2 separate regions of the Homo sapiens genome follow, and region 2 is linked to region 1. Evidence: fine-mapped expression QTL. A gene starts in region 1. The other region holds a variant in brackets. All regions are shown on one strand. Distances are between the middles of the regions.

Region 1 (4,520 bases):
TTGGGAAGCCAAGGCGGGTGGATCACCTGAGGTCACGAGTTTTAGACCAGCCTGGCCGACATGGTGAAATCCCATCTCTACTAAAAATACAAAAAGTTAGCCAGGCATGGTGGCACACACCTGTAGTCCCAGCTACTTGGGAGGCTGAGGCGGGAGAATCGCTTGAGCCCAGGAGGTTGCAGTGAGCTGAGATCATGCCACTGCACTCCAGCCTGGGCGACAGAGCAAGACTCCATCTCAAAAACAAACACACAAACTCAAACAAAAATTTATATCTGCATACTTTCTGACCAGCTCACCTACTTACTAGAAATCTATGTACTATGCCTCAGTTTCCTCATTTCTAAAATGGGGATAACAGTGCCTACCCCAGTGAGCTGCTGTGAAGATTAAAGGAGGACACACCGCACCCACCCACACCCACAGGCACCAGAGCACCTGGTATTTAGGTGTTAACTCTTACCTTTGTTTGGTACATAGGGAAGATTTACCTGATGTTTTCCCAAAAGACCTGCAAGACACTAATTTATTCCTACCAAGTAAAACATGGCTCAGGAAAACGAAACTGGATCAGTGTCTCTCTAAAACAGCCCAAGAAGCAGGCCAAGGAGATGGACAAGGAAGATAAATCTTTGGCCCTGGTCACAGGCCGAATTAAGAAATCCGGCAAGGTGGGGCGCAGTGGCATAGGCCTGTAATCCTAGGACTTGGGGAGGCTGAGGCAGTCGGATTGCTTGAGTCTCGGAGTTCAAGACCAGCCTAGGCAACACAGTGAAACCCTGTCTTTATATATATATGTATGTGTGTGTGTGTGTGTGTGTGTATATGTGTGTATGTATATATACATAATACGTATATATGTATACGTATGTATATATATACATATATACACATACCTATATACACATATATACATATATACACATATATACATATATATACATATATACGTATATATATACACACACATAAAATATATATTATATATAATATATAACTATATATAGGCCAGGTGCGGTGGCTGATGCCTGTAATGCCAGCACTTTGGGAGGCCGAGGCGGGCAGATCACTTGAGGTCAGGAGTTCAAAACCAGCCTAGCCAAATGGTGAAACCCCGTCTCTACTAAAAATACAAAAAATTAGCGGGGCGTGGTTGGTGGTGCATGCTGAGGCAGGAGAATCGCTTGAACCTGGGAGGCGGAGCTTGCAGTGAGCCGGGATCACACCACTGCACTCCATCCAGTCTGGGCGACAGAGCGAGACTCCGTCTCAAAACAAAACCAACAACAACAACAACAACAAAAAGCTAAAATCTTACAAAAAGCGACCTGTTCCACTGTCCCTTGGGCCTGCGGTGATGGTGGGCCTGACTCCATTCGTCTTTAAACATCTCTATTCCCGGCCACATCTTTGGCCACCTATGCTCGAATAAAGTGTTGTCTTGGAGCCTGTTGTAAATTTAAGAATAAACTTTTGTTAAAAAAAAAAATACAGTGGCTCATCATCTCTTGAGTTGTTTTCACTCAGCCACTCCTACCTTAGCTGTGAACTTAAAGTAAAACAAGCCCCCAGAATCTTGCCAGAGTCAGCCCTTTGATCTTTGTTCTCCCCTGAACTCTATTACCTGGAATTAAAACAACGCATTTGAAAAAAAGAAAAACAAGCAAGTTTCTGAGCTCACCCTATACCCGCTGAACAGAATGACTGCGGTGGCGCCCCAGAACCTCTCACAGGCCTCTCAGCTGCTGCTAATGCCCGCCGAAGCCCCGACGCCCGGATAAGGCCAGGGCTGCCGGACCCGCTGCGGGCACTGGAGGACCCGGGGCTAGAGGGCGCCGCTCTCGCCCGGCTCGCGCCTCGGCTCCCGGAAAAGCAGCTCTGTCCGCCGTTCGGCTGCGCTCACCTCCTTTCCGCTTCCGGTGTCCCCTACAGTCATGGCTGCCGCCGTCGCTGCTGCCGGTGCAGGGGAACCCCAGTCCCCGGACGAATTGCTCCCGAAAGGCGACGCGGAGAAGCCTGAGGAGGAGCTGGAGGAGGACGACGATGAGGAGGTACTAGGGCCTCGCGGGGTGCAGAGCGGGAAGCGGGCCCGCTCGTGGGTGTGGGATCCGCGTGGTACGGGATCGGAGCGAAGCGGCTGCTTTGGGAGGCGGGGTTAGGGGCCCTGCTGGGCCCTGGGTGCCCTAGCTCCAGTGGGGCTCGGCGGCTCCCAGTGCCGCAGCGGGGCCAGGAATGGATGTCGCTTTTTCGGCTAAGACCCGCGTCTACTCCACCACAGCTAGATGAGACCCTGTCGGAGAGACTATGGGGCCTGACGGAGATGTTTCCGGAGAGGGTCCGGTCCGCGGCCGGAGCCACTTTTGATCTTTCCCTCTTTGTGGCTCAGAAAATGTACAGGTAAGGAACGAGGGCAAAGGCACTGGGTACGTGCATGGGATGGTCGTGGTGCTGTGAAAGAACACGGGGTTTGGAAGCAGCAGACCCGTGTTGGGTGACCTTGGGCTTGTACCCTATCCTTTCTTAGTTTCCTCTTCTGTAAAATGGGGATTCTTACCTGGCAGGGGAGTTGTGGGGGTTATTTCAGATTGTTGGAGATAATTAATGAATAAGGAGCTTTGTAAGAACTCAGGAGAATGTTAAACCGCCATCACTAGATGATACAGCTACCATAGCTGCTCCTCCTGTCTCTGGTAGGAGTATGGTGTAAGGAGCGGGTAGAATACGTTTATCAAAAACATTGGAGTATGTAATGTGAGAGGTTTGGTTACTGGGTAGTTCTTGCCTGTTTTGTTTGCATGTCTTCATGCTCACCCTCTGGGGATTTTCCTCTGCAGGTTTTCCAGGGCAGCCTTGTGGATTGGGACCACTTCCTTTATGATCCTGGTTCTTCCCGTTGTCTTTGAGACGGAGAAGTTGCAAATGGAGCAACAGCAGCAACTGCAGCAGCGGCAGGTGAGCCCAGACCTTGGGCTTTTTGCCAGTGGTGGAGACGCAAGTTATTTCACTAACACATTGGTCCCCAACCTTTTTGGCACCAGGGACTGGTTTCATGGAACACAGTTTTTACATGGATGGTGGGTTGGGGGTGGCCGGGGGTCGGGGGGGGGGTTCTGGATGATTCAAGTGCATTACATTTATTGTGCACTGAATTTCTATTATTACATTGTAATATATAATGAAATAATTCTATAACGTAGAATGAGTGGGAGCCCTGAGCTTGTTTTCCTGCAACTAGACAGTCCTGTCTGGGGGTGATGGGAGACAGTGACAGATCATCAGGCATTAGATTTTCATAAGGAGCTTGCAACCTAGATCCCTCGCATGCACTGTTCACAAGGGTTTGTGTTCCTATGAGAATCTAACACTGCTGCTGATCTGACAGGAGGTGGAGCTCAGGCAGTAATGTGAGCGATGGTGAACAGCAGTAAACACAGATGAAGCTTCTCTCACTTGCCTGCTGCTGATCTACTGCTGTGTGGCTCAGCTCCTAACAGGCCATGGGCCAGTGCCAGTCCACAGCCCAGGGGTTGAGGGCTCCTGTTGTAGCACCTGAGTTGACCAACAGTTAATGTGTGGGTGGGGATTGGGATCGGGCCCATGCTCTTTTAGTTGTCTGACTGTGCTTTCAGTATTATTTTTGTAGACGTTGGCCCCATCAGGTATGGTGAGAATAAGCTCTCTAGGCCTGTATGATGCCTTACACCCCTCCTTTTCTTTTCCAGATACTTCTAGGACCTAACACAGGGCTCTCAGGAGGAATGCCAGGGGCTCTACCCTCACTTCCTGGAAAGATCTAGATTGTTATTGCTGTTTGAGCTGTCTCAGTGGGATAAGTTTGAAATTCAAGTGTTTGAACTGCTGATAATTTGGATTTTTTTTTTTTTTTAACTTTGGCACATTGATCTATCTAAACCTGGTGGGGAGAATTATCCCCACATTGTCTCATGGAAAGACTCAACTTGCAACTGTGCCCTCCACACTATCCTTACTTCTGTCTCCACTCTGATACCAGAGTGCAGCCATGCAGATGGTTATTCCAGCTCTGGTCACCCGACTCCTTTCACCAAATTGCTCCTAACTGGAAGATCTCACTTTCCCCTTGTGGGGTAGGAACCGATGCCAGTGGGAGGGATGTGCCCCTGACCATTAACGACTGTTTTTTTTTTTTTTTTTTAAAGAATGGAGTTGTTGGGGCAGGACATGCACACAATGTGAAACAGACAAAATGCATTACACCTGTAGTGTAAAGTGGCCACTATGAATCCCTATGTATGAGAGGAGGGAGGCAGGCTGCAGCTTCAGCCACAGAATGGGGACTATGGAAGACAGCAGGAGCTCATTTCCTCTGCACATTTTGGCTGTTAGACCTGTGTGTGTGTTTAAAAAAAGAGAAGTCAGTGCTCACTTTTTGTATTTAAATATTAAAAATGATTCCAACTGAAAGTGTCATCCTAAGTACCTTGAAATGAGACCACGTCAGAGACATGTACTGCCCCTCACATTTTCTCACCTAAACCAGC
Region 2 (4,124 bases), 54 kb after region 1:
TGACCCACAAACACTGGAGGAGACCTGCCTCAGGTCCCATCCCCCACCACAACTGGGCTTTAGCTGAAAGTTGTGGGTTTCTGAACTTCAGGAATAAGTCTTTGGGGACATTCGTTTGGCCAAGAATTCATTCCCTCATCTGCCCAAGAGCAGCTGCCCTAGGTGATAGGCAAAAGCCACATGAAAGCCACATCCCACAGCTCTTGGGCGTCATTTATTTTTTGCATAGGCATAAATTAGGATCTGGAGATAAAAAACTTAAGAACCAATAGTGCAGCATTTGTGACAGGAGAGCGCAAAACAAACCCTGGCTGCCTCGGGATGGAGCGGGGCGGCCTCACCACCACTGCATCCAGCCTCATGCTCCAGAGCGGATTTGAGGCTCAGTGCTGCAGTGAAGGCCTGCCCGCCTTCTTGCCCCTTCCCCGCAGCCAGACCACCAGACACAGCCGGAACCAGTGCCCCAGGCCCCTCTCCACGGCCAGGAACAAGAAACTGAGTATCACCCAGTGCCCCACAGAACGGGGCTAGGAATCAAGCCCTTAGCTTTTCAGTTAGAAAAACAGACCTTGAAAAATATATACATAATACAGTGGGGCCTGCTGGCTCTAAAAGTCCCCTCCTCCCCCTTCCCTATCCAGGGTAACTTCTGCCAGCCTCTTCCCCCAGCCCCCACCAACTGCCCCACAGAGAACAAACCAGAAGGGCGACTACCTGAACAAGAGCTGCAAGAGCCCAAGGGGGCAGCCTGAGCGGACGACCCCTACATCAGGGCCTGGTTAGATGTGGGGGCCGGTGCAGACAGACCTCGCACCCCGATACCCTGAACGTCCCCACAAGAGCCCAGGAGTTCCATGCTCCCCACTCTTCTTGCTATAACCCCAGATGCTAATGGCCCCAAAGACAGGTCTAGGTCTCCATACCCTGGGAGAATGTGGAAAGCAAGCTCAGGGGCACTGGCAGGCCCTAGCAGGAACAGGGAGCAGGGTGGGCCCCAACCTAGCATCAGGAGAGAGAAAAGCAACTACCGTCCCCAGCAGAGGGGAAGCCTACAGGGTTGGCCCTGGGCCCCTTAGAAGATCACAGCAGCCAGTCCCCTTTAGGGCACAAGAAGCCCCATGGCCCACTGCTACCCTCCCCGGGACAAATACACACTTTTGTCGAAGGCCCTCAGGGACCCTGTGGTTCATGCTTCCCTAGGTGGAGGGCACTAACCTTGTAGGAGAGCTGGGCAGCTCTCCATCAAGTGCTTCCTGCCTGGGGAAGTCCCATCCTGCTCTGGAGCTAAGCACCCTCCTCCCAGAGGGCCTCGCTTCCTTGCCCAGGGGCAGAGGCAGCTCACCTAGCCCAGGCCGTAGCTTGCCCCTCCCACAGCCCTGGCACCTGCTTCATCAGCTCCCAGGCACCAGCCCCTGACCCCAGCCAAGACCAGTCAGGTCCTACCTCTCCCAACTTCCCAGTCCCCCATGATATGCTACATATATACACACTCCCAGGATGGGAAGCAGACGCCACGGGCACAGAGGGAAGGAAGAAGGGAGCTGCTGGAGCCTGCTAACCGCCTCGAGCCACCTGCTGCTCAGGAGACCCTGCCCGTCCTTTTCATCTGCATGGGGCCACAGGCTCCTCTCTTGTGCTCCTAGAAGTCAGAGCGCCGAGCAAGCGTGTGGGGGAAGCGGCGGGGTGCTGTTCACCCACTCCCAGATGGCTGGCAGCAGGCACCAGTAAGCAGGGCTAGTGGGCGGGCTCCCCATGCACTCTGAAGCGGTAGATGCAGGTGTACTCGGGGTGGCCCCAGTTAGTCAGGATCCGCAGCTCCACCACCTGGTACGTGGCCATCGTAGGGGCCTGGGTAGAGAAGAAAGGGATTAAGAGCATCAGAGACCTGTGAGGCCTCACTGACAGAGAAGGTGGGAAGGGGAGACAGCCTCGCCTAGGGCCAGATGGCTCCCCTGCTCCTTCCCTGGGGCTCTGAAGAGAACCAGGCTTCAAAAGCTCCTATCTTTAGCCTCCTGAGCAGTGTTTCCAGCCAGTGGGTTAAGGGGCCACCTGTAGCACACTTCATCTGAAACCGGAATGAATTCATCCACAATCGTTTTTTTATTGTGATCAACAGATAGAACCACCTTCATAGAGGGCTTCATAGATGCTGATGTGGGGCACACTTGATTCTTTTTCTCCAGTGCCCATCGGGCCTCTGTCTAGCCACA[G/A]TGTTGGGAATGGTGTTAGCAGCATATCTTACCTGGGCAGATGCCACAGGCCTAGCACACTCCTGGCTTGTCCCTTCTCTCTGGCACATCGTTCTGTCCTCTACCCTCTTTTTTTGTTTTTGGAGACAGGGTCTTGCTCTGTCACCCAGGCTGGAGTACAATGGTGTGATCACAGTTCACTGCCTCAACCTTCTGGGCTCAAGGGATCCTCCCACCTTAGCCTCCCCAGTAGCTGGGACCACAGGTGCATGTCACCACACCCGGCTAAATTTTTTAACATTTTTTGTAGAGTCGGGATCTCGCTGTGTTCACCAGCCTGGTCTTGAACTCCTGGGCTCAAGCAATCCCCTCGCCTTGGCCTTGCAAAGTGCTGGAATTACAGACATGAGCCACCTCGTCTGGCCTCTATACTTTCCTAAAGAGAAATCCCAACCTCTCTTGCAGCCTAGTTACCTCCTCAGAGCTGATGACAACTCAGTTCTTTCTGGCTCCCCCGACAGCTCCACTGGACTGTTCCATAGGTGCCTCAGACTCAGCCAGACCTGCCCCCTGCTCCACATCAGCCCCCATCGCAGTGGCTTCTTCCTCCCACCCCATCCAACTGGACATTCACGACCCTCCCTGCTACGTCTTTGTCCTCACTCCCAACGCCCCTCTCCCCCACCTATCCTGTTCTGGCTGCTTTCCCTCAACCACTTCCTGACGGGTCTCCCAGGCCCAGGCTCGCCCCTTCGAGTCATATAGTGATGTTAGTCAAATGGACATAGCTTTGTCACCTGAAGCACAGCACTGCCTCCCCCAGGTCCCTGAGGGCTTATTTCCTGCCTCTCTGTGGCCTCCTCTTCCTGCCACTGTCCCTCGTCCACCTCCCACTATCCCGCCAACCCAATTCCTCACTCCAGGACTCCCCCGGTGTGGGGCTTAGGCCAATGGTTTGTTCAAATGCAGGCTCCTGGGTCCTGTCAGCCCTAAGGAACCAGACTCTCCTGGGGTGGAGACTGGGAATCTGCATTTCTAACTGACTTAGGAGATCGGATGCCCACTGAAGTTTAAGCCGCATGCACTGCCTGAGGCTCCAGCTGGCCATGGTAGAATGCCCGCGCCCTGGCATGTGCTGGCGGCGGCTCCTCGAACGCCTCTCCCGGCCTTCCTTTCCTGGCCACCCAACCCCTCTTGTGTAAAGCCCACCTCCTGGTGTCCTTTTCCAGGAAGCTTCCCTCATGCTGCCCTTCTGGAAGGTGCCTTCCCCTGTGCTGACGTCTGCAGGATGCGTGTTACACCCCATTTGGATATCACATCTTGAGCTGTGGGAAAGGAGAGCAGGGCTTCCCTCTCTGAACCCCATGCCTGGCAGGGTAAGTGCCCAGGGAGCACCTGCTGCCTGGATGGGGAGTCTGCGCCACTTCTGCTAGCACAGCAGCATCCCGTACCTGAAAGTGAAACGTCTGAATAGGCTCGCCGTCCTGATCGTAAGTGAACTTGCCAAGGAGTGTCCCCTCCTGCTGCAGGTCTTCGTCAAACCCCTGCAAAGAGAGCGGAGGGAAGTGGGGAGGGGCTGGAGCAGGGAGAACACCCCTCCCCACTCCAATCCCTGCTCCTCCCACCCAGCAGGTCAGGCACCAGAGTGGCCTATGACAAGTCACTTCACTCTCTTGTGCCACAGTTTCTGCCTCCAAAGCCTAAGGTAACAGGGACTGAAGTGCTGTCTCCCACCCTAGCTCCTCCTCTTCCAAATCCACTCCCCTCCCTTCCAGTCCAAGGGTGACCCTGACTTGATCCTCAGTAGAGAGGCCCACAGGATCCCCCTGCAGCCCCTCTGGCCCCACCACAGGACAGATACTCACAAAGATGGCGAAGTCCTTGGGGGCACTGGAGATAGTGCTGTTGGGTGACAAGGCCTTGGGCACATGCTCT

Direction of the effects. Positions count from the first base shown, and alleles are read on the strand shown. Sizes are in standard deviations (SD) of each study's normalised expression.
For the expression in prefrontal cortex of the gene that starts at base 1,913 in region 1, allele G in region 2 goes with a higher level than allele A (small effect, 0.30 SD a copy in CommonMind).

Evidence for each region. PIP is the estimated chance that this variant, and not a neighbour inherited with it, causes the effect.
Region 2: its variant is the best candidate, but not a certain one, in a credible set for the expression of TOMM22 in prefrontal cortex (CommonMind, PIP 0.54).

What each region holds. Positions count from the first base shown.
Region 1 is chr22:38,680,045-38,684,564 of GRCh38, forward strand. TOMM22 (translocase of outer mitochondrial membrane 22) reads left to right here and starts at 1,913. Exons shown (of 4, transcript NM_020243.5): 1 at 1,913-2,051; 2 at 2,279-2,397; 3 at 2,835-2,952; 4 at 3,723-4,520. The coding sequence starts at 1,935. The coding sequence ends at 3,797. It overlaps TOMM22-DT (TOMM22 divergent transcript), which reads right to left and starts at 1,812. Exons shown (of 2, transcript XR_007068097.1): 1 at 1,682-1,812. RefSeq lists enhancers at 1,701-2,900, 1,947-2,016 and silencers at 1,747-1,816, 2,207-2,256.
Region 2 is chr22:38,734,533-38,738,656 of GRCh38, forward strand. SUN2 (Sad1 and UNC84 domain containing 2) reads right to left here. Exons shown (of 18, transcript NM_015374.3): 16 at 4,055-4,124; 17 at 3,641-3,733; 18 at 202-1,848. The coding sequence ends at 1,735. It also overlaps a transcript of GTPBP1 not described here. Among named protein-coding and RNA genes, the nearest start is that of SUN2, 19 kb to the right of the region's middle. The variant G/A (reference allele first, on the strand shown) is at 2,211.